2 separate regions of the Homo sapiens genome follow, and region 2 is linked to region 1. A link means that fine-mapping ties the variant in region 1 to the expression of a gene that starts in the linked region. Tissue or cell type: skeletal muscle. Region 1 holds a variant in brackets; the other region holds the start of a gene. All regions are shown on one strand. Distances are from middle to middle. Region 1 has its middle 24 kb from the start of MIR4430. Region 2 holds the start of RASGRP3 (RAS guanyl releasing protein 3).

The links.
Region 2: RASGRP3 starts here. The variant in region 1 is fine-mapped to the expression of RASGRP3 in skeletal muscle (FUSION, PIP 0.92).

Annotation. Positions count from the first base shown.
Region 1 is chr2:33,433,348-33,451,025 of GRCh38, forward strand. It overlaps a transcript of RASGRP3 not described here. Among named protein-coding and RNA genes, the nearest start is that of MIR4430, 24 kb to the left of the region's middle. The variant A/G (reference allele first, on the strand shown) is at 8,846.
Region 2 is chr2:33,467,110-33,482,070 of GRCh38, forward strand. RASGRP3 (RAS guanyl releasing protein 3) reads left to right here and starts at 9,540. Exons shown (of 18, transcript NM_001139488.2): 1 at 9,540-9,598. RefSeq lists enhancers at 8,876-9,195, 12,656-12,825.

The sequences.
Region 1 (17,678 bases):
TTCAACCACCTTTTCATTATTCCTGCTGTGATTTAGAGAGCCATCCTTAACCTGTGTTCTTTTGAGTGGTTATTCTAGCAGTTTTGACTTATTTTCATTAGTATGATGCAACAATTCAAGTCAAAGGAACACAGTTCATAGCCCACAATTTGGTCATTATCTAGAGCTTCTGCACTTTGGGGATAAAGATAAGCTATTATTAAAAATACCTATGGGACATACAGGCTCAGATACATAAGTGCATTCATCTCAGTTAAGCAATAATATGCAGACTCTTTTTTGCGTTTTCTTTGAGAACTTTTGCTTAGGTTTTCTCTATATTTTATATATTGAAAACTTTTTAAGGGACTTCAATTTTAAAAACCGTATTTTCCTCCACTGACAGAACCAAAATAATTGAAGAATGTCACACATTATCTTTCCTAACAAGGCCTTTGACTTTTTCCCACTATGCCTTTTGAGAGAGTCTGTCATTAATTTTAGATTAAGAATACAGAGCCTTGTTGTTCCCATAGACGTTTGAATGATTCATTTCTAGAGATGGGCAATACGGGGAGTTCTGTGACGTTGTTCTTTTTGACAAGTAAAATACTTCCCCACAAAAAATAGAAGGAATATTTCCAGAGGACAATGAAAGAAGCCTAGTAAATGTACTTGGAGTTTCTTAGAAGCATTCATTCTTCTCACATGGGAGCACGGTTTGCTCTCAAAAACATATTACCCCACTGCCAGCCATTTTCTTGCCAAAGTCAACTCATGTACTTTCTAGCTCTTTCAATACACTGCAGCTGTTATATCCTGAGCACCATGGACTTCCTTCTTCCTTTCTGCTATTACAAGGAAGTCATTCACCTCTCTTTTTCTTTTTTTCTCTATCCGTCTTTTTTTTCTCTCTCCCTCGCATTCTGTTTCTCTCTTTCTCTCTGAAGAAACATTTTCCTCCCAATCTGTACTTAGGATGTGGACACCCTTACTTTTTCCTTATCAGCTCTGGCTTGAGCTCATTGTTCAACCTATTGCTTCTATTATACGGGGGCCTAGTATGAAACCCAAGCATGGACAAGAAATGGCTGGGTTTCAAAACAATAATCAAATCACTAAACAAAAATAGGGGCTGGGGGCCGGGCGCGGTGGCTCACACCTGTAATCCCAGCACTTGGGGAGGCCGAGGCGGGTGGATCACCTGAGGTCAGGAGTTCAGGACCAGCCTGGCCAACATGGTGAAACTCCATATCTACTAAAAATACAAAAATTAGCCGGGCGTGGTGGCACATGCCTGTAATCCCAGCTACTTGGGAAGCTGAGGCAGGAGAATTGCTTGAACCTGGGAGGCGGAGGTTGCAGTGAGCCAACATCGCGCCACTGCACTCCAGCCTGGGTGACAGAGCAAGACTCTGTCTCAAACAAACAAACAAAAAAAGTGGGGGCTGGGACATTGTATTTCCATTAGAAGCTTCATTTCTTCACTGTTTACTTTGGTTTTGTTTCAGACAACTTATAATTTTTAGATATAGCTGTTAGTAAAATTTGCTTAGAATTTATCTATATGTAGGATGACTCTTCACCATGTGTGAGTGCTGTTGTCTCTCTCTTAAATACTATCCTTTTGTTTTTTCCACTGCTTTTGCCTCACATTAGGTAGCTTCTCCAAGTAATTAGGAAATTAGTATGTCTTCTTAACATTAGATCTAAAAACTCTTCTAGTCATCTAGATGGAGGTTACCAGCATAAAAAGCATATACATTATTTTCTGATTCTTACATTAAAAAAATCTACTCTTAAATTCCTTTTTGAAGAGATATTAATAAACATGCACACAAAGTAATTATGTAGATCCATGTTTCTCCTATTTAGTGAGCATCAGAATCACCTGAAGTTAATCATCTGAGCCCCAGCCCCAGAGGTTCTGATCCAGGGTTGCTGATGCTACTGGTCCTCGGACCACTTTTTTTTGTCTTTTTTTTTTTTTTAATTTTTAAAATTTTTTTAGACGGAGTCTCGCTCTGTTGCCAGACTAGAGTGCAGCGGCACAATCTCAGCCCACTGCAACCTCCGCCTCCTGGGTTCACGCCATTCTCCTGCCTCAGCCTCCCAAGTAGCTGGGATTGCAGGTGCATGCCACCATGCCCAGCTAATTTTTGTATTTTTAGTAGAGTCAGGGTTTCACCATGTTGGCCAGGATGGTCTCCATCTCTTGACCTCGTGATTCGTCCACCTCGGCCTCCCAAAATGCTGGGATTATAGGCGTGAGCCACCGCGCCTGGCCGGTCCTTGGACCACTCTTTAAGTAGCCCCTCCTATGGAGAAATTCCTTGTGCTTCTTCTCAAAGTGTTACTCACGTAAAGAGCAGCTAAAACAAACACTTACTGGGTGGCTAAAACAAACACTGTTGACAGACAGTAAGTGTAGAATGACAGAGTAAGGGAGGGAGGTGACAGATAAATAGATGACTGTTAGATAACAAATCAATACATAGACATCTAATAGAATTATATGAAGGACCTTAAGTAATAACAGTTTTAAAAATTGTCTTTAAAATTAATGTTTTGAAAGCATGGCATACACAGTATAATATTTGAAAGGGAAAAAAATATGTATGTCACAAATTAAACTGTCCCTTCATTCCAGACATACACTCCCACCTTGAAGAATCAACCATATTTAAGTGTCTATAGGATATGACAACTTATAGTAAAACTGAGACCATAGGAAATTAAAGAAAATGTTGACTATGGTGCACAGACCAAAGCTGAATTATTTGAGGCCAAATTTTTAGTTTGTTTGTTGGTATTCATTTGAAAGAAGCACACATGCACTCATATACCTAAGGCTGCTTTCTGAAATCAAATACATTTCCTGCCTTCTTCTTTCCTCAGTACTCTTACCACCAGCCTATTTATAGCCCAGGAAAGGAAAAAGCTCCACTGGAGGCAGGAAAACTAAGTTCGGAAAGAATAGGAGGAAGTCTGCCTGCCATTTAGCCAAACAACCTTTAATTCATTGAGCTCAAAGCTTAGCAGCTTCAATGTTGTTGTTAGGCATAAACAGCTTGCAAATTTCAATTTTTTTTCTCTCCTCACTTTTGAACTAGATTTGGGCAATGGAGGTGATGACAGCATTTTAGAAGACAGAACAGGAATTCTAGGTGTTTAGGCACGTTGAAGAGAAACTTGCTAGAGGTGATGAAGTGGAAAGAAAAAGACAATTCACTATAGGGATCAACATTATTGCAGTTCTGCAAAGGTAAGTGTCATTTAAAAATCTGTCTGTTGTTGCGTCTTAATGCACTTCATGAACTATGGATATTAGCCACAGACAATGGATATGATTTGAGGTCCGATCCTCATGTAACTTTTCAATATGCTTTGCTCATATCTCTGAAGAAATGTAGAAATCAACCTTGGTTATGACATCTTCAGGTTTTTACAATAAATATTTTAAAAAGTTGTTTCTTGACAATAACTTTACAAACTTTCTTCAGTTTCATTATTATCAGGGGTTTAGATAGTATAAATAATTTCATTGATGATCACCTTTAAAAATATATTTTTGATATTTGTCTGCTTGTCTGCCCTTTTCAAATTGCTGATTAATAATCCACCTATAATTTATTTGATGAATAATAGTTTAGAATACTTTTAATAAATAGGCCTTCAAGCAGAAATGGACAATTGTATAAAAGTTATATATAAAATTTAAATTTTGTATAAAATTAAGCAAAGATAACAAATTTTAATACAGGTTTTTTGTCTTGAACATTCATTTTTCAGAAAATGGAGAATCTTCTAGAACCACAAAAAACAGCACTGAATAGTTTCCAGTGATAGAAAGTGTTCATAGTAGTTATGTAGATTTAAATTATTATTTCCAAACATTCGTTCATTATGTTTTGAGTACCTTGAAAAATGTCACTGGGTTTGGAAATGGTAAGGTTGAAAGGAAATGGATTAAATCCAAGAACAGTTGATGTTGCCCACAAAAACTTGGAAAGCTACTAGGGACATTCCAAATTCTTTTAACATTCTTTGCCATTAAACAAGCACATTTGTTTAAATGATGCACCATATTTGCATCCGCTGCTGATAATAACCACATTTGTGTCTTGGAGTAACTTGATTAATGTTACCACAATGACTAACAGAGGAATACGGTTCTGGTGGATTATTGAAAAGGAAGAGCAGAAGGAAATGTGTGGCTGTTATTTCTTTTGCCCTATCCCTGTTTGAGATTGGGATGTTTAGAATCTGTCCCAAGAAGATAGCAAAGCTGGAAGCCAGAAAAGCAGAACCAGCTAGAACCGGCACAGGAGGCCAGGACTCGGCTCAGGCTCAGTGTGGATCCCACTGGCCGTCTTCTTTCCTGGGAGAATTTAAGGGTTATTTTTTACTGATTAGAAAATTATAATTCCATGGAAACTGTTAGAAAGTATAATATGTTTGAATAGAAAGATCATGATTTCTTAGCTGAACTTAAGTGGTTAAAAAAAAAAAGAGAGGGAAATGAAATTAATCTGAATAAATATGATAGATCTGAAGAAACAAACAAACAAACCCTCAGCATTTATTTTCAGGACATTCCAGTGCTGCAAAGTCAGTTCTGAGTCCACTTTAGATCTTCCACAGAGTGGACTCTAAGGTGACTTAATTAATTGCCACGCCACATGGCTCTAATTACAGCAATGTTGCTTACAGCAATTCTGATTTCTGATCATGTTGAACTCATTTCCCTTAGAGTTTCAAAACAACGTTCACATTTGACACATTCACATGTTTACATTATGAGAATGAAAATGTTTTAACTGTATGTAAGGTTTAAGAAAGATAAAATTATGAGTTAGATGTATTATTTCAAGAATATATTTTTTCACTTGTAAAAGGCTCATTGCTGGTCATTGGTTTCCAGATGACCATAGATTTATAAATGTATTCATGGGGCCAGGCGTGGTGGCTCACGCCTGTAATCCCAGCACTTTGGGAGACCGAGGCGGGTGGATCACCTGAGGTTGGGAGTTTGAGATCAGCCTAGCTAACAGGGTGAAACCCCGTCTCTACTAAATATACAAAATTAGCTGGGCGTGGTGGCACATGCCTGTAATCCTTGCTACTTGGGAGGCTGAGGCAGAAGAATCGCTTGAACCCAGGAGGTGGAGGTTGCAGTGAGCCGGGATCGCGCCACTGCCCTCCAGCCTGGGCAATGGAGTGAGACTCCATCGCCAAAAAAAAAAAAAAAAAATTGTATTCATGAAATGCCAGGTATTTAAAATACAGTTCTTAGAAATTGCTTAATAGTTCTACGGTAGTTCTACAGATTGTTTTATGTATCTACAAGTTGCTGAGAACATTTTAAGTTAGAGTTAGCTAATTTTGAAAAAAATTATCAATTTTTTAGCTTTTTAATTAATTACATAGAAATGTATTGCCTTATTTCCAGAGTAACTCCTACAATCACCATGTGTTTACAGTTTACATAATAATAGAGCCAACCCTGGCCTTCACATTTAAATACAAGTAAAATCAGGTTACTGAAGAGACCATATGAAGCAGCAAGAAATTTAGATGTCACCAAATACAATGTACAACTTGGGGGATGTGTTGAAGAGGGATGTGGGAGAAGCATGCCAAGGTCTTCTTCTTCAGACTGGAAACTACACCCACCTGCCATCTGGCCTGACGCTGGGTGGGGTAGAGGGGTATTGCACGATGATTCTTGTGTATTTACAGGCACCTTAAATTCAGACAATTGGCTTTTGGAGACTTTTCTCCTACTGTCTCATCCTGTATTACAGGTCTACAAGCAGCACCACACCATGAACACCTATTTATTAAGTTTTCTAACTTACAATATAATCTCTATCCTTGAAAAACTCAATGTTAAGTTGAAAAAAGGGAAGTATACAGGACACAAAGCATCCTGTATGTGGAGCCAAATTAATGACGTAGATAATGAGTGCCACCTAAGGAAGACCTGATCCAGACGGGCTTCATGGAGGCCTGAGGCTGAGTTGGGTCTTGGTAAGCGGGAGGAGAGCTGATGGATGAGGGAGATGAGGACATCTATGATAAGAATGGAGCTGTGAGCATGAGCAGAGACAGGAATGGCCTTCCTGCGCCCAAGGAATAGGGCTGTCAGATGAAATACAGGATGCCCAGTTCAATGTGAATTTCAGATAAACAACAAACACTTTTTTAGTCTAAGTGTGCCCTACTGCATGACTGTGTATGAGACTTAGTGCATGGGACCTACTTATACGAAAATAGTATTTGCTGTTTATCAGAAACTCACACTTAGCTGGGGGCCCTGTATTCTGATTTCCCAAATCTGGCAACTCTTCAAGGGAACTGAGAGTCAGCCAGCTTGACAGCAGCAGAGGGAATGAGCCTATGGAGCAGGAAAGAAGTGCCTGGAGGAGGCTGGGTTCAGAAGGTGGTGGGACTTTAATGGTGAACTAAGGAGTCAAGAATTTAAAGACACCTGGGGCCGATGAGAAGTTCTGAAAAGGGAAATGGCGTGCATAAGATCTGCCGGTTGGAGGCAGAACTTGCTGGGGGAGAGATCAGGGCACCGAGGCCTGGGTTCTGATGAAGACAGAGAGAAAGAAGCCCAATGGAGACACATCTGAGAACAAACTGACGCGTTTTGCAAACTAATTGGGTATGGTTATAGGAGGAGAGAATGTGTTCAAGAGGATGTTATGTTTTATGGCTCCATTCAAAGAAATGGCCAAAGAGACAGCAGCAGGTCAGGGAGTTAGTGAGAGGGATGGGGATTTTGGTTTCAAACACAGGAAATTTGAGGGAATGATGGAATAGTCAGATAGAAATAGTAAGCGAACAGCTGAGAATGGAAAACAGCTTAGGAGGGAGGTGAGAACTGGAAATAAAAACGACAACATTTATTAAGCACTTACTCGATGTCAAGCCTTTTATCTCCATTATCTCCTTCTGCCTCTGCAACCATCTATCGGCAGGTTCCATTGCCAGCCACATTTTGTAGTTGAGAAAAGTGAGGTCAGAGAGATTAAGTAACATGTCCATGATCACATCATTAATGAGAGGCAGATGGAAAATGGAACCACCATGTGTAGGGGCCAAAGCCCTCACAACTGAGACTCATATACAGAATGTTGAGCCTCTGGCTCTAGATTCACTTTCTCCATCTGCAAAGAGCTAAGGGCGCCAGTTGCTCATGCTAGAACCCAGTTTTTAGCCAGGTTCCAGGTCTTCTATTGTTCGTAACTTTGATGGCCCTCGTAGAATTCTCCATCTTTTGGTTACTCTCTCTGAGAAAATGGAAATCATTTATACCCAGAGGTTTTCCTTATTTATTAACCTCCAGAATCGTTTTTCCCCTTAGTGGCTCATTTTAAATTTTCCCTTGGTCATCTGGTGAAATAAAGATTATGATGAAGAATCTATAATCTCATATAGTTACTTTTTTTGTATGACATGTGTGGCTAAAACATACTTATTTTACAAAAATCCCGAATACAATACAATTTTATTAAATTTCATCTTGAGGTTGGACATTAGATCTCCAAACTTGTTTTTTTTTCTTTCTTCTTCAAGACAAGGTCCCCCTCTATCACCCAGGCTGGAATGCAGTGGCACAAGCTCGGCTTGCTGCAGCCTCCACCTCCAGGGCTCAAGTGATCCTTGTGCCTCGGCCTCCCAAATAGCTAGGACTGCAGGAACACGCCACTGCACCCACTAATTTTTGTATTTTTTAGTAGAAACAGGGTTTCACCATGTTGCCAAGTTGGTCTTGAACTCCTGACCTCAAATGATCCTCCTGCCTCGGCCTCCTGAAGTGCTGCGATTACAGGCGTGAGCCACGGCACCCAGCCTCCAAACTTGTTCTTTAGTGTCTGCTATTTTGTATCCTTTGACCTATATGTCCCCATTTCCCTTTCCCCCCTCCTCCCACCCTTAGTGGCCACTGTTTCATTCTGTATCTCTGTGTTTTAGGGTTTAAAAAATATTCCACATATAAATTAGATCGTGCAATTTTTAGAAAAAGGTTATGCTGAAGAGAAAAGACCAAGGGTGTCAACCTCCTCTCCTTGTCCCTGGCTGCTCTCTAGTGGCAATACCAGAAAACAACGCTCAGCCCAGAGACAGCAGAGCCAGGCACTAGAAGCAAGCTCTTTAGGAATCTCTAAATAGCAAATTCAAGAAGGCTAGTTGTGCTAGGAAATTCTGGAAGAAGACTCCATGGAATTACATACACCCTTACAGCTTGTTGGCCTGAAAGGCATTTTGAATAGAACAGTTTTAGATTTATCTTAAACTTTCTAATCATTAAAAATACTTCACCTGTTTACCATTTTAGGCAGGCACATATGTTTGGCTACTAAACTTTCAATGCACATACGTGCCTTTTTATTAAGATTTCCTAGATCTTTGATTCTAAATATTTACTTCAAAATACACAATATATTTTTTAGTAAAAAGCAAAAAGTCTATCTTTTAGGGATCTATTCTTAAAAACATCATAAATTGAGACAATAATGCGTGTGTAAAAGACTATTCATAACAGATACATTTTGTAACTAACCTAAATATACAGGGAATTGTTAAATAACATTCCACAATATGAAATTTTATACAGACATTAAATTACATTATAATATTTAATGACATTGGAAACTATTCATAGTAAATGTTAAGTGAACATTTACACTTACATTCAGTGAATGTAAGAAGTCTACAAAATTATGTATATAGTGTGACCCCATTTGCTTAAAAAATATATATGTACATATGAAAAAAGAAGTAAGAGCTAAAAAGTCATACACCAACTGTTAACAATAGAAATTTCTTAGCCTGGCCAATATGGTGAAACTCC[A/G]TCTCTACTAAAAATACAAAACTTAGCCAGGCGTGATGGCATGCGCCTGTAGTCCCAGCTACTCAGGAGGCTAAGCCAGGAGAATTGCTTGAACCCAAGAGGCGGAGGTTGCAGTGAGCCAAGATCGCGCCGCTGCACTCCAGCCTGGGTGACAGAGCGAGACTACGTCTCGAAAAAAAATTTCTGGTTGGTGGGATAATGGTGATTTTGATTTTCTACTTTGTCTCCAGGATAAATAAGCATGTACTACTTTTATAATCAGGAACAAAACCCAGTATGTTTTCAAAATGTACAGAGCTAAGTCTCTGTTCTGATTTCTTGCTGTCATGGCTGACAATATGTTCATGCTAATTCATTGCCATTGACGGCCTCTCCTCCAAGTAAAGGGCTATATCCTGTTTGTGACAGCATAATCCATTGTAATGGAAAAGATTATGATGCACTGGCCTGTTCTATGACTTCACTGCATTCATCAGCAGCAGGAAACAAAGACATGCACTTTTTTCATAATTGTTTTAGTAATAATTGACAATTGGAGGAAATGAATGGCAGAAAACAATTATGGGCAGACAAGATGGTCAGCAAATCAAACTGGGAAATGCAGGGGAGCCCGTCTCAGCTTTATTCATGTAGCGATTTCAGAACATTACAAAGATATTATTGTTTTGTTCTCCTACAGAAATCACTATTGTTTTTTTTTTTTTTCTTTTTTACCAGCAGTTACACAATTCTTTGCTGGCAGCAATGACTTCCAATGTGTTTTTAATTCAGTAATCCGGTAATCCCACAACAGGGATTTGCTGCTGAACTTTTTATGTTTATTAATATTCAGGGTCAGTGTGAACGCCTCCCTGTGCACATAGCTAGTAAAATGCACAGCGATATTGCTGTGACTTTTCTTGCCTCTGAATAACTCCCTGTTGCCCAGACATAGAATCTTAAAAGTGTTTCTTTCTATTACATTTATAAATAGCAAATTCATGTTTCTATTTTTTAAATTGTCCCTAGTCTTCATTTTAATAGCAATGGGCAGGAGAATAAAACAACAAAAACTCAAAACAAGTGAATTAATGATTCAATATCTAGTTTCCATGCCATGAAATGGGCACATCCCTTAGATGAAAATGAGGGATGGGTTATCAATTAGGAAACAGTTAAGTAAGGCAGGTATTATGCTGTGGTAACATTTATTTATTTCTCTTAGCGGCCTGTGTTCATAGTTGTCTTGCTGGGTATTACTAGAATTCTTTGGATGGGGAAACTAAACATGTGTGGGCTGTTACATCACTCCAAGTCATACTCTTCTCTGGTTAGCCTGATATGGAGTAAAATTCGGCAGCAGCTCTGACTTCCAGTTTTAAAGACTACTTACTGCTCTTACTATTTATTATGGAACACCCTACAGCACAGTCCTGTAGAAATACATACCTGTAATCCCAACAATTTGGGTGGCAGAGGCTGGAAGATCACTTGAACCCAGGTGACCAGCCTGGGCAACATAGTGAGATCCTGTCTCTAAAAAAAAAAAAAAAAAAAAAAATAGCTGGGCATGGTGGTACGTGCTTATAGTCCTAGATATTCAGGAGGCTGAGTTGGCAACATTGTTTGAGCCCAGTTGTTCAAGTCTACAGTGAGCTATGATCACACCACTGCACTCCAGCCAGGGCAACAAAGTGAGATCCTGTCTCAAAAAAATTAAAAAAATAAAATATAAATAAAATGTGAGCCACTAATGTGACCTACATAGTTCATTTTACATTTCCTAGTGACCACATTTCAAAAAATAAAAAGAAACAGATAAAATGAATTTTAATATCATAGTTTAAGGAGTGGGGGATAGTGCCTTACACCTGTAATCCCAGTGTTTTGGGAGGCAAAGGTGGGAGGATTGCTTGAGGTCAGGATTTCAAGAACAGCCTGGGCAGCATGGCAAGACCCTGTCTCTACAAAAACAATTTTAAACATTAGCTGGGCATGGTGGTGCATGCCTGTAGTCCTAGCTACTCAGGGGACTGAGGTGAGAGGATTGCTTGAGCCCAGTATTTCGAGGATGCAGTGAACTATGATTGCACCACTCACTGCACTCCAGCATGGGCAACAGCAAGACCCTTTCTAAAATAATAATAATAATATAGTTGATTTAACCAAATATATCCAAGATAACATTTCAACATGCACCCAATATAAAAAACCACTAATAAAAACTTTATATTCCCTTTTTGTAATAAGTCTTTGAAACCCAGTGTGTATTTTATCCTTACTGCATGTCTCAACTCAGACTAGCCTCATTTCAAGTTGATAGCTTCAGGTGCCTAGTGGCTACTGTATAAGACAGTGCAAATCTAAACAGAAGAGCTACGGTGCCACCCACAGCTCATAAATAATGTGAAATTTAGACTATGAGATATTGCTACCTTTTCTGTACTCACAGTCATCTCCATTCTGAAACATTTGAGCTGAACATTCTATATCAAGTAAGATTGAATAGTTGAATAGCAAGCCAAGGACTGGCAGTTTTGGAGATTTGGCTTATTAGAATGATTCAGCTCTTCACCTGGGCTGGGTAACTATGGATTCCTCAGTTGAGAATTAGGGCAATAGAAGTTTTTTTAATAAACATTATCCAAATTTGAAATCTGGATGATATGCTTGTAAAAGACTTTATCATAATGTTTTGAAGTGAATTTTAGGTATAGGAATAGATTCAATTACACAGCCTAAAATCGAGTTCCAAAAACCATTATAGACATTATGCTCCTAATAGTGCCTACAACTTAGTACAAAGAAATAAATCTTTAGCAATGGAAACACACACAAGTGCACATGCACACACGCACATACTTCCAACATTGTGACCACTTGCTGATGTCTTTTCTGCATTTTGCATTGTCTTATTTGAAGGATAGGAAGTATGCTATAATAATCTTCTATAACTACTATGCCTTGGGGACTCTCATGCCAGTCAGCTGGTGTGATAAAGATAGCTTCTGTGTGCTAAATACGGAGATACAAAAATAGAACTGGTGGAAGTGGATAAAATCAGAAGACACTGTAGGTTCTTATGGCCCCACCAATGGCAGAGACCTGGAAACATAGGTCTCTGAAATCCTGGCAATGAGTTGCAGCCAACTGGAATGATCACATTTTTGGTTCTTGTCTTATTCCATGAGGGTTTGGTTATGAAACTAGAGTTTAACCAGTCAGAAAATTCTGAAATCAAAATAAAAGTTAAAGACATATATAAATAATGACCATTCATTGCATGATTTACAAATTGGTAATGGTCCAAAAGTTTGTTTTTAATAATTTTCTTGGCCCTCTGAATTCACTTTACATTTTCCCCATAGAAACAAAGTTATAAATAGTGACTGCATACTGCACCTAAAATGCCACGTATCTACAACGAAATTATTACAATGTATTTATAATATATTATTTATTCTAAACATGTATGCATTTGAAATTATTCAATGAAATCTAACTATTGATGTACTATTTCTACATTAATACATTATATCATATATTAATATGCTAATAATTATATCACATTAATATATTAATAATATGTTAATTAACCAAACAGAAAAAGTATATACTGGATCAACAAAACCACCTTGAATTCAAAGCAACAAACACTAGTAAAGAATCCAGGAAGTGCCAGGTGCTATACTAGAGTCAGGGACAAGCGTAAGAGATAAATCATATTTATCTTGTTTCTTAATATTGGAGGAAAAGCAAATTTACCAACGAAAAATGAGGAAGTAAATGGAATTCTTTTTTTTAAAGGGGACTGCCTTATCTAAGTGACCCTTAGGTAGAGAGACCTTTTTTAGGCTTTTATGTCTAATTTTACTGTTAAACTTTGTGCTTGCCTTTTCCTGAAGGACAAAGTACGACTAGTTCTGCTGTTAATGTGTAGCCATTCTTTTTTGTTGGTTCCCAAATAGGGTAATTTTGTTCGTTTGTTTGTTTGTTTTGTTTTTGAGACGGAGTCTCGCTCTGTCGCCCAGGCTGGAGTGCAGTGGTGCAATCTTTGGCTCACTGCAAGCTCCGCCCCTTGGGTTCACGTTTCTCCTGCCTCAACCTCCCTAGTAGCTGGGACTACAGGCACCCGCCACCACGCCGGGCTAATTTTTTTGTATTTTTAGTGGAGATGGGGTTTCACCATGTTAGCCAGGATGGTCTCGATCTCCTGACCTCATGATCCACCCGCCTCGGCCTCCCAAAGTGCTGGGATTACAGGCGTGAGCCACCCACACCCGGCCCAAGTAGGGCAATTTTTTTTGGAAATTTTTTGGATTTTTTTTTTTTTGGTTCCCAAATAGGGTGAGATTTCTGTGAAGTAACACTTGGCTAAGAAGTAGAAGAGAGGAAAGTGAAGAGAATGGTTAGAATTAAATATGCAGGCACATGAGAATTGTGCATGATTGTCCAGTTCTCCTTGGAGAAAGGGTGAGGAAGACTAGAGACTGAGCCTCAAGAAATGATCCTCAACAGCCTCTAGGGTGGGGAAAAGGAAGGGAGGGAATGTGTGCAATTTCACATTCAAATTGCACATACAAATTTCCGAGTCAGTTAAAGAAAAATCTCTTGGTGAGTGCCATTAACTGTTGGATCCTGCAGAGACTACCATTAAAAAAATATATCAATAGAAAATGAGGAAGGACTGGGCCGGGTGCGGTGGCTCACTCCTGTAATCCCAGCACTTTGGGAGGCCGAGGCGGGTGCATTACGAGGTCAGGAGATGGAAACCATCCTGGCTAACGCGGTGAAACCCCGTCTCTGCTAAAAATACAAAAAATTAGCCAGGTGTTGGTGGCGGGTGCCTGTAGTCACAGCTACTCGGGAGGCTGAGGCAGGAGAATGGCGTGAACCTACACTCCAGCCTGGGTGACAGAGCGAGACTCCGTCTCAAAAAAAAAAAAAAAAAAAGAGGGGGAAGCAGTGACCAAGTCAGGCATGAATGGGCCTTCAGGGAAGGTCAAGAAATCTGGGTTGAGTGGTCCCACTGGTTGATTTCACAAAACAGTGAGAATCAGGGACCTACAAATGAGTTGAGATTATGTATGTAGCCCAAGGAACAGGAGGCTGGGCCAGGGGGACAGACTGTTCTGGAACACTCTCTTATTTCTTCTGCTGGGAACTAGGGCTGTTTCTCTGGTAATGGAGGCCCTCTGACAAAGACAAAACATAGGGTAATTGTGCCACATGCTACTCAAAGAGGTGCCCCAACCTTGGAGTGTGCACATTTTTTTTTTTTTGAGACAGAGTTTCACTTGGTCACCCAGGCTGGAGTGCAGTGGTCCGATCTTGGCTCACTGCAACCTTCGCCTCCTGAATTCAAGTCATTCTCCTGCCTCAGCCTCCTGAGTACCTGTGATTACAGGCGTGCACCACCATGCCTGGCTAATTTTTTGTGTTAGTAGAGACGAGGTTTCACCATATTGGCCTTGAACTCCTGATATCAAGTGATTCGACCGCCTTGGCCTCTCAAAGTCCTGGGATTACAGGCGTGAGCCACCGCACCCGGCCCATGTCTGTGTTTTCTATCTGAAACTGTCTCCTCACCTTCTGGTCAATGAATGCATCCTTCTTCAATGTCTTCTCTCAATTTCTTTTGTTTCTAGGATATTTTCTTTTAAAACATCCATATCTCTTCTTTGCCATGGAAACTACACCCAATCTACCTGAACCTGCGGCACCCCTCTGATGACCCATTTGGATTCTCTGATTTCACTGCCAAGATTCTCAGTGAGTATTCCATCACATACCACCTTTATTTTCTCAAGTCTCTTTCAGATTTTAAACACATAAAATCTGATCACATGTTTTCAACCCCACTGAAACTGTGATGTCAGAAACTTTGTAAATTATGAAGTGAACAACATTTTTGTTCTTCCTCATTTGATGATGAAGCTGTCACCAGTCTTGAGTGAATTTGCCCTCTTCAGAAATGCTATAACATTTATATACTGTAATACTATATAAATACTTTCTTATATATTTAATCCCATGTCTGGTGGTGTTTCTTTAATTTATTCAACTACTATTTGCCTCTGTGGTTAATTTTCCAAGAGTTTCTTCTCTCAACAACCTAATTATAAATTCCTTCATGTCTAGGCCTTATTTTGTGCTTTAAAAAAAACTCTCTGTGGTACACTAATGTTCATAGCAGCATTATTTATAATAGCTGAAAGGCAGACACAACCAGACACAACCCACATGTCTATCAACAGATGAAGAGATAAACAAAATGTGGCATAGACATGCAATGGGAAATTATTCAGCCATAAAAAGGAATGAAGTTCTCATATATGCTAAAATATGAATGTACCTTGAAAACATCATGCTAAGTGAAATAATCCAGACACAAAAGAACAAATATTATATGATTCCACTTATGTGAAATATCTACAATATGCAGATTCATAGAAACAGAAAGTAGATTAGAGGTGGCTGGGGGTGGGGGGAAAGGGAGAATAGAGAGTTATTTCTTAATAGTTGTAAAGTTTCTGTTTGGTGTGATAAAAAAGTTTTGCAAATAGTGGTGATGATTGCACAACATTGTGAATGTAATTAATACCACTGAATAGTACACGTAAAAATGGTCAAAATAGCAAATTTATGTTATATATATTTATTACAATTTAAAAATTAACTATATAATATAGCAAAACGCAGTGAATTGTATGGTATGTGAATTATGTTTCAATAAACCTATTTTAAAGAAATCCCTCTGGGAACCAGATATAACCTTACATATAGTAAATGTTTAAGTAATATTTTGTATCATTTGTTGTAATGAGATTCATTAGGACACAAATTTACATGTGGTAGAGATTAGACATGTTTTTCAAATTATGCATACCAGGTATAACATGATTACTCTCTGTTTGGGGCTTTAGGTAGGTTTAGACAAAAGCCAAGTGCTGTGCAAGTGTGATTGAGACCTTAAACAATGTCTTCATCATTTCTACCTCTCCCAGATTACCAGACATAAGATCAGGTGCATGACACATACCAACTTCCTAATCTTAAATTTGGTGAATGAATGAAAGTATTAACAAAGTATGCAGAGTTACCTTGCATATATATGCATATATGTTTTTTCTCAACCAACCTTTCGTCATTGCAATTGAGACATTACTTTTTCAGACATCTACTTTTAAGACATAATACGTTATACTATGTAGATAGCATAGAATATTGTGCAGGAATCTAGAAAAAACCATGTTTGATGACATACAACAGAATATTTCATGACATTGGAATATTTAATAATATTTAGGCCGGGCGCGGTGGCTCACGCCTGTAATCCCAGCACTTTGGGAGGCCGAGGGGGGCAGACCATGAGGTCAGGAGATTGAGACCATTGTGGCCAACATGGTGAAACCTCATCTCTACTAAAAATACAAAAATTAGCTGGGCATGGTAGTGCATGCCTGTAGTCCCACTCCTAGGGAGGCTGAGGCAGGAGAATTGCTTGAACCTGAGAGGCAGAGGTTGCAGTGAGCCGAGATTACACCACTGCACTCCAGCCTGGTGATAGTACGAGACTCCATCTCCAAAAAAAAAAGGAATATTTATTACAGTGAAAATATTTATGATATATAGCAAATACAAAATGCAAACTTTTGTATATTTGACCATTATGCATTTTAGTAAAGATAAGAAAGGTATTTTATTACTTATTTCTGTGTAACAAATCATTCCAAAACTAAGTGCCTTTAAACAACTGTAAGCATTTATTACCTCACATGATTTCTTTGGGCCAGAAATTCAGGAGAAGGTCAGATTAAGGAGTTTCATTTGTGAGGTTGCAGTCAGTTGTCACTTGGGACTAGAGTCTTCGGAAGACTCAATAGGGACTAGAGATTTACTTTTCTTATCGTTATTTCCAGCCCCCAAGCTTTATTAAGATATTGACAAACTAAAATTGTATATATTTATGATGTAAAACATGATGTTTTGATATATGTATACATTACAAAAAGATCAAATCACCTATTTAACATACTTATCACCTCATATACCAATCATTATTTTTGTGGTGAGAACATTTAAGATATATCCTCTTAGCAATTTTCAAGTATACAATACAATATTAACTGTAGTCATTATGCTGTACAACAGAACTTATACATCTTGTCAAACTGAAATTTTGTACCCTTTGATCAAAACCTCCTCATTCTCACCTCTTCCCAGCCCCTTGCAATCCTCATTCTACTCTCTGTTACTGAGTTCAACTTTTTTAGATTTCACAAAAAATGAGATCCTGCAGAACTTGTCTTTCTGTGTCTGGCTTATTTCACTTAGCATAATAGTCTCCAGGTTTATCCATGTTGTTGCAAATTACAGAATTTTCTTATTCTTTAAGGCTAAATAGCACTCCATTGTATATACCGCATTTTCTTTATCCATTCAACTGTCAATGGATGCTTAGGCTGATTCCACATCTTGGCTATTATAAATAATGCCACAATGAACATGGAGTGTAGGTATCTCTTTGACATGCTGATTTCATTTTCTTTGGATAAATACTCAGAAGTGGGATTGCTGAAGTATATGATAGTTCTATTTTAAATGTTTTTTTCTTTTTTCTTTTCTTTCTTTTTCTCTTTCTTTCTTTCTTTTTTTTTTTTTTTTTTTTTTTTTTTTTTTTTGAGACAGAGTCTTGCTCATTCGCCCAGGCTGGAGTGTAGTGGCATGATCTCGGCTCACTGCAAACTCCACCTCCCAGGTTCACAGCATTCTCCTGCCTCAGCCTCCTGAGTAGCTGGGACTACAGGTGCCTGCCACCACGCCTGGCTAATTTTGTTTTTGTATTTTTAGT
Region 2 (14,961 bases), 32 kb after region 1:
AATTATGATTACTTCTATATGCCTTTCTACATGTTCCTCTTTTCTCCCAGAGAGATTTCAGGTACTTTGATGAATTCCTAAAGGCAATGCACATTGAACACCGGCACTATATTTTTTTCAGTTATTGATATTGGTTTGTTTGATTCAGGAGCTTTAGAGGTTGCAAAGTCTACTCTCTGATGCTTTCAAAAATTTTTCTTTCTTTTTATTTGTTACAGGCATGTAGCTAGCACAACTCTTATAATGAACTGACTGTGACTGGGTGCTTACCCTGGCCCACACATAGTTCAAAGGGAAGAACAAGAAGGGTAGAGAAATCTCCCATGATTTTTAGACAAGTGTTGTAAGAAAAAAAGAGAAGGTATCAAAAAAGTGTATGTGTCTGAAAAAGAGATTGCACAAGATAGAATTTACTGAGCTGGAGGAATATGAGAGAATGTTGCATACAAAGTCTCCTAAAAGGAAAGGAAGGCAGAGATGGGATGAGATGTGGTATGTGTTAGTGCTTCAAATTAACAGCAGGTTTTGCGTCCCAACTTGACGCAGCTTGTGTGGAATTTGGTGTAGGGCAAATGGACCCACAGCTTCAGGAGGGAGCTGCTAGCAGGGGAAGTTGTACTATCTGACAGTGCCTATATGAGATTGGTACCTTTTGGGAATTTCTACCTAAGGCGGTGGCTCAGATAGGCACAAAGGCCCATTGGGACCTCCCTGAGAAACAGAATAAGAGGTGCTCAGGCAAGACCACACTTCCGCCCTCTTCCTGTATCCTTGAAACCTTTCAGAGATTTGCTGTCAAATATTGACCAGAAAGTTAAAGAAGCAAGACTTGGGAAAAAGTGACTGGTTTTTCTAATGGATGGTGAGGCTTTTTCTTTCTTTCTTTCTTTCTTTCTTTCTTTCTTTCTTTCTTTCTTTCTTTCTTTCTTTCTTTCTCTCTTAGTGTACATGATTTGTTTTTTTCTCTTTGTGTAGATGATTGAAGTACTTAAGTGTCTTTGTAAGTCCAGTATCTCTTTTCTTATTTTAAAAAGATCTCATTAAAAAATGAACTAATAAATATTTATTATAGAAACAGTAGATAAATGCTGATGAGCATAAAGGAGGAGGAAATATATGTGACCCCCAACTCCCAGAAATAATCACTATTAAAAATTTGATATATAATGTTTCAGATTTTTAATATATTCACATATTTTCTTAGAAAAATGGGATTGTACTGAATAAACTTTTGTAACTTTTATATCTCACTTAATCGATGCTGAATATTTTTCCATGTTACTAATATGCTTCAACATTTTTTTTTTTTTGAGACGGAGTCTCGCTCTGTTGCCCAGGCTGGAGTGCAGTGGCATGATCTCGGCTCACTGCAACCTCTGCTTCCGAGGTTCAAGCGATTCTCCTGCCTCAGCCTCCTGAGTAGCTGGGACTACAGGTGCACACCACCATGCCGGGATAATTTTTGTATTTTTAGTACAGACAGGGTTTCACCATGTGGGCCAGGATGGTCTTGATCTCCTGACCTCGTGATCCACCTGCCTCGGCCTCCCAAAGTGCTGGGATTACAGGTGTGAACCACTGTACCCAGCCACTTCAACATTATTTTATAATTGCATAGTGCCATATCTTATGAATATGTTCTAATTTATTCAACTACTTTTGGCACCTAGATGTTTTTCTAATATTTTCTTAGTATAAGTAATGCTGCGTGAAATATCCTTATACATATGCAATCCATATTCTTTTCTTAGGATATATTTCTAGAACAGGAACTGCTGAGTTAAAGGGTATTCACATTTTAAAAAGCTTTTGACATACATTACAAAATTATCTTCCTCCTATGTTGTACGATTTATATTCTTTCTGGTAGAGTATGAAGGTGCCATTTTCCAAACCTCCTGCCAACACTGAGAATTTTCGTTTTTTCATCTTTGTCAAGTTTATAGATAATAAATTGTATCTTATCGTTGTTTAATGTATACTCCTTTTTTAGGGAAGCTGACTTTTTCATGTGTAGATTGGTCATTTATGTTTCTTCCCTTGTGAACTATTTATTAATATCCAGTTGTTAATTGTAAATGCTATTTATATGTTAAGACCATTAACCCTTTACCATACGTATTTCACTTTTGAATCTCATTTTATTATTTGTAGGTTAATTTTGATTACCGTTGGATTATATTTTACATATATGTTTTATATTTTATGGTTTAAATCGTGAACTTTTATCTTTATAGCTCCTTCTGTTGTGACTGTGATTGAAACGTTTTCAGGACAAAAGTATTTAATCATGATTAAAACAATTTTAAGATTATAAAACCAATCATGTGATTCTCTTCAAGTTTGTATGTGATTTTTTTTTTTTTTTTGACATGGAGTCTCATTCTGTTACCCAGGCTGAGTGCAGTGGCGCGATCTTGACTCACTGCAACCTCCACCTCCTGGGCTCAAGTGATTCTCCTGCCTCAGCCTCCCTAGTAGCTGAGACTACAGATATGGGCCACCATGCCCAGCTAATTTTTTATATTTTTGGTAGAGAAGGGGTTTCACCATGTTGCCCAGGCTGGTCTCAAACTCCTGACCTTAGATGATCTGCCCACCTCGGCCTCCCAAAGTGCTGGGTTTACAGGCATGAGCCACCGTGCTGCTGTACAGCGTTTTTATGTTTAACTCTTTAGTCTAACATGCTTTTACTTTGTGTATGGCATGAAGTAATGATTGCATCTTAATTTTTCCGAATAGTTAATGATTTAACCTGTTTTTGAATAGTTTATTCTTTTCCCACTGGGTTTAAAAACCATATTGAACAAATACAATAAACATTTTACTGTAGTTCTTCTATGTGTATTTCTGGGCTTTTGGCTCTGTTCCATTGCTCTAGTTCTTTTGGCACTAGTACCAAACTTTAAATTCACGTTATTTTTAGCCTATTTAGTACCTAATATCTCCCTTGTGGTTCTTTTCTAAAATTTTCTTTACCATTCTCAGTTTTTTATTCTTTAAAATAAACTTGAGGATTTTTGACCTGTTTGAAAAATTTATTTGGGATTTTAAGCAAAATTTGATTATATTTATAAATTAATTTGAGGGAGAATTAATATATTTACAATGTTAAGTTTTCCAGTACAGAAAAACTTTCCAATACAGAAATGTATCAAACTGTTTTTAATTTTCTCAGTAAAGTTACATTTTTAAATAGGTTATTCACTTTTTTTATTCCTAGAAATGTTATTGTTGTTGTTGCTATTATAAATAATACTATAACTAAGAATTTTTTTTTTTTTTTTTGAGATGGAGTCTCACTCTGTTGCCCAGGCTGGAGTGCAGTGGCGCGATCTCAGCTCACTGCAAGCTCCGCCTGACGGGTTCACGCCATTTTCCTGCCTCAGCCTCCCGAGTAGCTGGGACTACAGGCGCCCGCCACCATGCCCGGCTAATTTTTTGTATTTTTAGTAGAGACAGGGTTTCACCGTGTTAGCCAGGATAGTCTCGATCTCCTGACCTTGTGATCCACCCTCCTCGGCCTCCCAAAGTGCTGGGATTATGGGTGTGAGCCACCACGCCCGGCCAAGAATTATTTTCTATTATGTTTTCTAAGTTTTTGTGGGTTATATGGAAAATTTCATATATTTCTGTATAATTGTTCCGTGGCCAGAACAATTAATTTTGTATACTTATTTTGTATATTTATTTGTAACTGTTCACCTCACTTTTTAATTATTTAGAAGCAAATTTTAGTTTGTTCTATTGAGAAAATGAATATTACTCAATCTGCAGGTTGAATACTTTTGTCTCCATTTTTCTCATAAAATTCTTCTTTAGTTTCTTTTTCTTGCCTGGTTGCAGTGGCTCAAATGTCTAGAACAGTGTTAAATGGATGGTAGTGATAATGAGCATGCTTTTCTTGTTTCTGATTTTAACATTAATACTTCCAGTATTTTACCATTAAGTATGATGCCTATGTTTGATTTGAGATTTGAATTAACATGAGTATCATGTTAAGAATCAGTCTTTTAATTTTGTTTTATTAATTAAAAAATTGATATTGAATTTTATCAAATGATTTTTCAAGATTATTGTGGCAATCCAAAAGTTTTTCTCTGTTGCCCAGTCTGGAGTGCAGTGGTGTGATCATACCTTACTGCAGCTTTGATCCCCTAGGCTCAAGTGATCCTCCTGCCTCATCCTCCCAGGTTGGTAGGACTATAGGCATCTGCCATCACACTGGGCTATTTTTTTTTTTTTTTTTTTTTGTAGAGATGGAGTCTCGCTATGTTGCCCCTGCTGATCTCAAACTCCTGGCTTCAGGTGATCCTGCCACCTTGGCCTCCCAAAGCACTGGGGTTACAGGGGTGAGCCACTATTCCCAGCCTTATTTTTTACATCTTTAGGGCAACCTATGTTTACGTATGAAGTTAGTCTGTGGTTTTCTTTATTATGCTTTATCAGTTTTTTTTTTTAAGACAGGGTATTATGTTAGCTTTCTGTTACTTTTGTCCACTTGAACACTTCATATACCATGGGAGTTAATTCTGCTTGAAGCTCAGTTAGAACTTGATTGTGTAAGTAATCTGAACTAAGAGCTTTTTTTGGAAATAATTCCTTATTAACTTTTACATTTTTCCATGGTTACTGATCTGTTGTTTTTTGACTTCTTCCTGGGTCAGTTTGCTTCTAATTATTATTTTGGCTATGTCTCCCAATATTTGATATGTGGTATTCTCATCACTGAAACCTTCTAAGCATTCATTCTGTAATTGTGTTTTTAATTTATTCTCCAATCAATGATTTTTTTTTTTAAGAACTCTAAAGTTTCCCCAAGAGCGTGGGGTCTTTTTGACTTACACTTTTGTAATTAATGTATAGTTTTATTACAGTGTGATCACAGAATATGGCCAATTTCTTTTGGAAAGAAATTACTTACAATTTTTTTTTGGTAGCCTAATATAAAATCAAGTTTTGCAAACTTTTCTTATATTTTTTTCTTAATGGGCTAGACAGAAGATCCTTCTCTTTAATTATTCATTTATTCATCGAGGATTGTTTCCACCATGTGTCTCATACATGCCAGGCATTGTATTAGGCATTGCAGGATATAAAATAAGTCATAAGCTTTGTCTTAGATTGGTAAAGTTTGGATGGAACACAGACACATGTAGACCTAATTATAATACAGAAAGAAATGCAACCGCAGCGAAATGTACAAAAGCAGCAGGCAGCTAGAGTGGGAGTGAAGCCCTGAAGGTTCTGGGAATACAAAGTTGCCTACGATGGCCCGGAGGGGCTTTCAGTCCTAGCGTGTAAAACATACATTGAGATCAGAGACAGGCTTTTTGGAGGCAAGGTGATTAATTAGGAAATCACCGCAGACCTTCAGTAATAAATCAGAACATATGAGGGGCGGTAAGAGTGCAAGATGAGAAGAGAGGATTTTCACACCTAAGGGGCAGATAGCGGAAGAGAAGCCCAGACCTGAGGATGAAGGAGGTAGTAGTAAAATTTTATAGACGCCATGGGAGAGCTTTTCAAGGGGTGGTTGGTCAGTTGGGACAAATAGAGCCAAAAGGTCAAGTAAGATGGCTCACGCCTGTAATCCCAGCACTTTGGGAGGCTGAGGCGGGCAGATCACGAGGTCAGGTGTTCGGGACCATCCTGGCCAACATGGTGAAACCCCGTCTCTACTAAAAACATGAAAATTGCCGGGCGCGGTGGGTCACGCCTATAATCCCAGCACTTTGGTGACAGAGCAAGACTCCGTCTCAAAAAAAAAAAAAAAAAAGCAAAAAGTGTCGGTTGCCTTTGGTCTTTGGGGACTTGGAAAGAGCAGTTTCAGTGAAGTGAGGGAAAAAAAGCCAAGCCACAAGTAGGTTGAGAGTAAATGGGATGTGAGATGGTGAAGACAAGTATTTTTTCAGGAGTTTAGTTGTGGAGGGAATGCAGGAGTTAGGGCAGTAATTAAAAGAGCAAGTCTGGCTGGGGGCAGTGGCTCACGCCTGTAATCCCAGCACTTTGGGAGGCCAAGGTGGGCAGATCATGAGGTCAGGAGATGGAGACCATCCTGGCTAACATGGTGAAACCCCATGTTACTACTAAAAATACATGTCTCTACTAAAAATACAAAAAATTAGCTGGGCGTGGTGGCGGGTGCCTATAGTCCCAGCTACTCAGGAGGCTGAGGCAGGAGAATGGCTTGAACCTGGGAGACGGAGCTTGCAGTGAGCCGAGATCGCGCCACCACACTCCAGCCTGGGCAACACAGTGAGACTCCGTCTCAAAAAAAAAAGCAAAAAATCAGAAAGACTGTTGTTAGGATATAAAGACAATGTGAGAACGTGAGCATGTTTAGCTAATGAGCGCACGCTGAGAGCAAGAGAAGGCGTGGTTGTTGTCGAGAGTCCTAAGCAGGTGGGAGACACAGGGTGAGACACAAAGCCGAGGTAGGAGGTGGCCTCTTGACAGGAAGAGGGCACCTCTTCTTGAGTCGAAGACAATGCTTGGAACTGGTAGGGAGTGTGGGCAGAAAGATGGGATCTCCCCCATTTCTTTGCAAGGCTGTGTTATTGTAGAACCTTTAGTCACACTCCTGGACTCTGACTGAAAGGGTCCTGGGTCTTGGCCTCTGTGTTAACAGTTTGCTTCATAGGGAGGATTGAGGATCCATCCCTTCCTCTCCTGGCTATAGAACTAGAAAAGAACCTCTACACCAGTGGTCCCTAATGTATTTGGCACCAGGGACCAGTTTCATGGAAGACAATTTTTCCATGGACCGGGAATGAGGGGATGGAGATGATTTCAGGATGAAACTGTTCCACCTCAGATCATCAGGCATTAGACTCTCATAAGGAGCATGCAGTGTAGATCCCTCGCGTGCACAGTTCACAATAGTGTTCATGCTCCTATGGGAATCTAATGCCACAGCTGATCTGACAGGAGGCAGAGCTCAGATGGTCATGCTCCCTTGACTGCTGCTCACCTCCTGCTGTGCAGCCTGGCCTCTAACAGACCATGGACAGGTACCTGTCCATGGCATGGGGGCTGGGGACTCCTGCTTTACACTTATGATGTAGTTTGGATGTTGTGCCCACCCAAATCTCATGTTGAGATGTAATTTCCAGTGTTGGAGGTGGAGCCTGGTGGGAAGTGATTGGATCTTAGGGGCAGATTTCTCATTAATGGTTTGGTACCATCCTGTTAGTGCTGTTCTCATGATAGTGAGTGAGTTCTTTTATTTATTTGTTTATTTTAAGACAGAGTCTCACTCTGTTGCCCAGGCTGGAGTGCAGTGCAGTGGTGCGGTCTTGATCTTGGCTCACTGCAACCTCTGCCTCCCAGGTTCAAGCACACCACCACGCCCGGCTAATTTTTGTATTTTTAGTAGAGACAGGGTTTTGCCATGTTGGCCAGGCTGGTCTCAAACTCCTGACCTCAGGTGATTCACCCTCCTCAGCCTCCCAAAGTGCTGGGATTATAGGCATGAGCCACAACACCCAGCTGATAGTGAGTTCTGGCAAGCGCTGGTCATTTAGAAGTGCCCCCTGTCTGTCTTGCTGCTGCTCTGGCCATGTGACTCATCTGCTCCCACTTTGCCTTCCACCATGATTGTAAGTTTCACGAGGCCTCCCCAGAAGCCGAACAGATGCCAGTATCATGCTTCCTCCATAGCCTGCAGAACCATGAACCAATTAAACCTCTTTTCTTTATAAATTACCCAGTCTCAAGTATTTATAGCAATGCAAGAATGGACTAATACAACTTAACTTTCCTGAGGCTGTTGTCGCTGTTGGGCATTGAAGAGTTTCTAGAAGTCCCTGTTTCTTTATGTGGCATGCAATGGATCATCAGAATAATTAACCCAGTCAATGGTAAACAAAGTGATGGATGGATGCCATCAGATCACAAAAGTTTCTATTACTGTAAATACAAGGGGGTAAGTAAATCAAAATAATGTTTCAAATCCTCAGTAGGCCTCTTTTTCTGTTTCTAATTGAAGATTGTCACATCAACACATAAACAAAAATGCCTGTGAGGGAAATGTGTATTTTATGCATTGCATTTTTATATCTGAAGTTTATTTCTATTACTAACTTGAAATGCTGAGGAAGGGATTTGTTTTGGTGCTTACAAAATTCTCCCATTTGCTCTTCGGACTCTCACAAGTTGACAACAAATTACTGCCCTGATAGTATGGTGAGACTGAGGGTTTTTTGTCTTTTTCTCTTATTCTAGAAAACACTGTATCCTCTATATGGAGGGAAATTTCTGGTTTGATTAACACTGTAAATAATTATGAGACAAAGCCTAAATATAAAAGATTACTCACACAGGCTCTTACACTGAGTAAGATATTATGTGTTAAAAATCAGGGTTAATAGTTTAACAGGCACATTATGGTTCAGAAATCCCCTGGGGGACTTCAACCATCTTTTCTGGATGTTCACTTTGCCAAATAGGCTGCCTCTATGTCATATCTCTACCTGAAGGGCAGGCTCAGACACTGATTCGGGGAAGTGTCACCCTTACTATACCAAGAAGTCAGACATCCAAGGTCAGACACTACGTAAAGTCAGATACTTCAAGGGCTTTCCTTGGAAGGGAGGATGAAAAGGGAAGGGTGGGAACATCAGCTCAGGTGAGACATATGAATTCAACAAAACATCAGGGATGGTTTGCCACGTTTGCGAGCAGCACAGAAAACGGCAGTTTGCTCCAAGTTCCCAGCACACCAAAGGGGGCAGTAGTGCGTCTGTAAAGCGCGTTGTCAACTTGGTGATAATTTCTGTTTGCATTCACACTCGCCGGCTGATAATCTCAGCTGCTCGATGCAATTCAACAGATAACAATGCGGAAGTTTGGTCTAAAGCTACCTGAAATCACTTCCAAGAGCTCTTCAGATAAAGCTGCCTTTGATAGTCTTCATTAACCCCTCCCATATTTGCCCCTCAGCGTCCCTTGGCTTAGCAGCCCCGGCCTTTGAAGTCCAACCTAAGCATTCTTAGATGGTGAGTGAGGGTCTGCCTTCCCCAGCACCAGCCACCTAGTCAGGCTTGTGGCTCGTCTAACAAACTGGAGCCTGAGATTCTGAGAAAACGAAACCAAACAGTTGTACTCCGGGGTTAACACAGAGCAACTTCCACCTGCTGTGCGAGTTGGTGATCCTCTCTCTTGCCGTTCGAGAGCCCCAGTGAAACTTGAGTGAGATGAGAGAGCATGGAGCCTGCCAGTCTCCCCCTCTGCGCACACACACACGCAAACACATTTAACTTTCCACTTGCAGTGACCTGCCCTTCAGTGTGACTTATCAGCTGTTTGGCTTTTGTCACTAAAGGAAAACAAATTGTGGAATATCCCGCTCTGCATGCTCATGAGATGGCTGAGCCAACTCAGGGGTTATGAGGTGGTTTGCGAGTGAGGAGAAGAATGATCTTCAGTTTCTGACCTCCTGGCACGGTGGCGGGCGGTATTTATCAGGAGGTACATGTGACTGGTTAAGACTCAGAGCCCCAGCTTGAAGGAAACAGCTGCTCTCGGCGTGCTCCGGCACTTGGCAGCTGGACAGGCAGAGTGCTGATGTGAAAAATACCACGACAAAACCACCCTAGTAAGTAACTGGAGAACTTTCCTCTCTCTCTCTCTCTTTCATTCCCTCTCCGTGTGTGTGTGTGTGTGTGTGTGTGTGTGTGTGTGTGTTGCAAGCCACCAACAACTTTTGATTTTGATTTTGGTTTCCCTCTGGCACGATAGAAGGAGATATTTTATTTGTACCTGTTAACAGCCATTGGTGTTTTCACAGCCCTTTTTTAGAACCTGTTATTTTCGGCAACGTGTCTTGTAACTTTGAGGATGAATGGGGCATATGGCTTCATTCCTGTCTAGGAAACAGAAAGTTTGTTTCCCAGTGTTCAAGATTTTTCTAGTCCATGGTGTTTAGGTTCAAAGTCAAGTTCAGGTTATGAAGTAGAGACTTCATTGAAGTGAGTTGATGACTAGATTTGATTTTAATCTGTTTCTACCACTGAAACCTGAAAACGTAGTTGTTTAAAGTAACTTGTGAATTTATTGTATGGCTGATTTGATTTTTCCTATTCAATTTTTGAGAATATCTCATTTAACTGTGTAGAACTGTCTGCAATATAGAAGACTGACAAAATAATATTTAGATTCACATTAGAAATCATATTTAGATTTCTTGCATGGTTTCCAACTAATTGAAAGCTGTATTTTATAGCGACTTTTTTTCCCCCCAACAAGCTAATTCACCTTCATTACTTTAAAATGTTCAGTTGCCCCTGGTCTTCCTTCACCTTCATTACTTTAAAATGTTCGGTTGCCGCTGGTCTTCCTTATTTTAGTGTTTTCGTGATACTCAGGCTGTTTTTTCCTTGTTTATGACCTGACTGGGAAAGTGCTGCCTGCAGCTGATGATTAACTCTGGGAGGCCTGGCATCCAAATTACGGAGAGAACCGGCTCCTTCTCAGGTTCATTCAGCAGTAATGGTGCTTGCGCTTGGGCGAGCAGCAAAGCAGGCACCATGCTGGAACTGAGCTGTTGTTCGGTGACTTTTGTCCTTCCTTGGTAGTCACCAGACAGAATGCTTCAGAGGAAAGGCAAAAGGGGAAAAGAGAGAGGGCAGAGCTCTAAACTGATGACGTAAAGCTCTGAAAGTGACAGGTCTTTGAATCAGAGGCTGCAGGGAGATAACCAAACAGGTTCCTGTTTCTGGAGATCGCGTGGATCTTGAGGAGGGTGGGCAGAGAGGGGCTGTTTTTATTTGAAGTCTCACCAAATAGTTGTTTTGCTTGTGATAAGCCTAGGACAACCTGGAGTGCGCTTGTTTCCTCGTGTGACAAATGGATTCTCATACAGGCTCAAGCTATACGGTTTTCTTTCGCCCTCTGCCCCCTGCCATGAGGGAACACTGTTCTCTCCCCACCCTTACCATCCTTTGTTGTTTGTGGAGAATGGATTAAAAATGACCCAGGGCACGGCACTTCTGCGATCGAGTTTCCCTCAGCACAGTGGGTCTTGAGTACCGCACCAACCAATGTTCTCTGATGGAAGCAGTTTCGGATGCCCTGTCTAAACAAATGGCTAGTCTGACATTGAGAAGTTCTCCACCTTCTTTTCCTTCAAATGTAGAAGAATCCACAAAATGTAGAGTGGCCAATGAGGAAAAATAGTCCCAACTTCTCTGTTCCTCGGTATGGCATTTGTGTGAGGTCCTTGGGTCAGCCCGCGGCCATGTGGTCTGTGACTTCCCTGTCTGACTGCTGGGGGAGGGGGTTCCTCCTGAGTCATTCTTTAGGGAGTTTGTTCCTGGTATAGTTTCAGATTTTCCACAGGTTGATAGTGGAAGAGAACCCTCTGGTGAAATTGTGTCTCCGGAATCATCGAGCCTCCCATAATAAAATGGAATGTCTAAATGGGAGCAGTTGAATTATCCAACTGCTGTATTTTTGAGAGCCAACAGGCTCCTTTGAAAAACCCATGCCTTTTCAAAATATTAATAGCAAAATAATAAAAAATAATGATTTTACTTGCAGATAGTACATCCATTGACTCAAAGACTTTTTGACCTGGATAGGAATGATAGAATGTGCGATTTAACTCTTTCGTATCAAAGATGAGGAAACTGTAGCAAATTTATCGGAGTTACGGTGCAGAGCCAGAAGAGAGAGCTCAAGGCTTCCATCATAATTTCAACGCTAATAACAATCCCTTACTTTTATTGTGCACTTACTCTGCCAAATGATGCGCTAAACAAGTGTATTTATTTTCATAGTCTCCTCACAATAACTCTATGTGTTACATATTATTATTCCAGTTCTATAGATAGGAAACTGAGGTTCTTGACCATACGTAACACAGACAGGAGGGACACCCTTAGTTACTTGACCATATGTAACACAGACAGGAGGGACACCTGGATCTGACTGTAGAACCTGTATACATTAAAAAATAAAAGTGGAATCCCACACATTTAAATGTAAAAACTCACAACATGCAAATGAGAGTATTTCCAGCACAATATGATTACACACACAATGTGTGTTATGCCCTTTTCGAGCTCTCCATGACAGGAAGGGCTAGGTTTCCCCCTGTGACAGTCCAAGCCCAAGCTCTCTCTATAGGATCGCTGGCTGGTGGCATGTTTTTCTCTTTGAAAATAGTTCAGTGACGGTCTTGATGTTGGTAAGAACAGCAACCGGGAACTTTGTTATTAACCTCCAGCACACGGCTCCCATGCCCCTTCTGGCCTTTCCCTCCAGTTTTCCTGTCACTCCTTTCCTTTGGAGGACAGCCACTCCACCCATGCCCCACCCCAAATAGCTGGCTTAGTGTTGATAAAGCTATTATCAGACCCATCCCCTTTGCTCAGCCTGGAAGGTTGGTTGTCCGAGTAGGTTGTTGATGAATAGAAACCATGCACTCTGCCACTCTGCGCTGTTTTTTTGAGCTGTGGGTGTAAGGGGTGGGTCACGGGGCAGGGGACTAGCTGGCAGTGGTGAGGGAGGAGAGGTATGCTTTTCTTCACTGCCTGCACCTGCCATTTACCCTGAGTCCTACTTCTCCACACACCAGTTGCATATCTAAAGCTCTGACTGTCTCACGGGTGGGCCATAAACCTGTGGATTTTCTGGGTCATCAGACTTGCAGAGCCCTTAAGAAACCTGCCTCCTGAATCCTTTTAAAAATGTCATTTGGCTGTCCACATTCCTCCACTTTAGGTTAAGTGTCAAAATTAGGGTTGGAGATAATGGGAAAGAGCACCAGGTAGTATGTAATCAACAGGGAACCTTTTATTAATCAGGAGGAAAATCAAGCAAGTATGCCATGTGTGGATGTTTCTGAGGAAGTTATCAGTGTTTCTGCAAGGTCGTTCTGGCAAGATTACACATTTTGAAGATCAAGCTATTTATAGCATGAAAGAGGAATTTTTTTTTTTTTTTTTTTTGAGACAGTCTCGCTCTGTCGCCCAGGCTGGAGTGCAGTGGTGAGATCTCGGCTCACTGCAAGCTCCGCCTCCAGGATTCACACCATTCTCCTGCCTCAGCCTCCTGAGTAGCTGGGACTACAGGCGCCCGCCACCATGCCCGGCTAATTTTTTTGTATTTTTAGTAGAGACGGGGTTTCACTGTGTTAGCCAGGATGCTCTCGATCTCCTGACCTGGTGATCCACCCGCCTCGGCCTCCCAAAGTGCTGGGATTACAGGCGTGAGCCACTGCGCCCAGCCCGCATGAAAGAAGAATTTTTAATCTTTAATTCCACCTGCCTGCTGCCTCTAAAACTAAGCCCAACTCAGTAGTAGTCAGTGATGTGGTTTGCTAGACCAAAACCACTGGGAATTGCCTCCAATCCTTGCTAGGAATTGCTCACTTCTGTAGAAATTGGCTTTGTACAGGGGGTGTTATATGGGTACACGTGAAGTGGACTCAGAATCACGACAGAGTCCACAAGTCATACTCTGGAGCTGATTTGAAAGAAAATAAAATGCTTGATTCGTTTTGGGGTCCTTTTACAATAAGGAAACACATTCTGGGATACAATGCCTATTTTGTTTCTTTGTTTTTGCCCAATTGTGTGTTTCAAAGACATCTGCTTCCAAAAAGTTAACTTTCCTGGATCCTCCTTTCCCTTGGTATTGATTGCTCACTTATAGTCCCTGGAGTTAACAGCTCCTGTGTCATGTTTCCACTGCTCTATGGGATTTGAAGTCTTTGGATTTTTTTGCTGTTTCAAGTGATTATTATAGCTTCAGAGTCTGTGGTGTGCAGAGTCGCTGTGCTTTGATCTTTGAGCTCATCTTTGGTATTGAGAAGTCGAACCCCTGCATTTATATATGCCGGCATAAGGCACTTTCTTGTACCTTGCCATAATCCCATGAAAGAGGGAGGGTATCATCACCATTGTTTTCAAAGAGGAAATAGAGGACGAGAGAAAATGAGTGACTTGTCTATGGTCATGGGAAAAGTAACTGTCAGAGCTCAACTATATCTCTTGTCTACTGACTCCAAGTGCCAGGCTTTTTCTGTTGGTTATGCTATCTTTCTTTTGTTTTGTTTTTGTTTTTCAGATGGAGTTTCACTCTGTCGCCCAGGCTGGAGTGCAGTGGCACGATCTCGGCTCACTGCAAGCTCCGCCTCCCGGGTTCACACCATTCTTCTGCCTCAGCCTCCCGAGTAGCTGGGACTACAGGTGCCCACCACCACGCCTGGCTAATTTTTTTGTATTTTTAATAGAGACGGGGTTTCATCATGTTAGCAGGATGGTCTCGATCTCCTGACCTGGTGATCCACCCACCTCGGCCTCCCAAAGTGCTGGGATTACAGGCATGAGCCACTGCGCCTGGCCTAGTTATGCTATCTTTCAAAGAAAGACCAATTTCAACTATTTCATGACCATGCACTTACACAATCTGTGGAATTATCTTTGGTGATAAAAAGTTGTGTAATTTGTATTCTCTTCAGATAGGCAAAGAGTGACTGGATAACCGATTTGCGACATGCCACTCATGATATTTCCAAAGCCTATGGACATTTGACTTTGGAAACAGGGTCAGCTTAGTCTTCAGACACCGTATTTGCTTAGGATAATTTTGTTTGTTTGTTTTTTCAGACAGAGTCCCACTCTGTCACCCAAGCTGGAGTGCAGTGGCACAATCTTGGCTCACTGCAACCTCTGCCTCCCAGGTTCAAGCGATTCTCTTGCCTCAGCCTCCTGAGTAGCTGGGACTACAGGCGTGCACCACCACACCCAGCTAATTTTTGTGTTTTTAGTAGAGATGGGTTTTCACCATGTTGGCCAGGCTGGTCTCGAACTCCTGACCTCAGGTGATCCACCCACCTTGGCTTCCCAAAGTGCTGGGATTATAGGCATGAGCCACTGTGCCTGGCTAGCTTAGGGTAATATTTTTTTTTTTTTTGAGATGGAGTCTCGCTTTGTCGCCCAGGCTGGAGTGCAG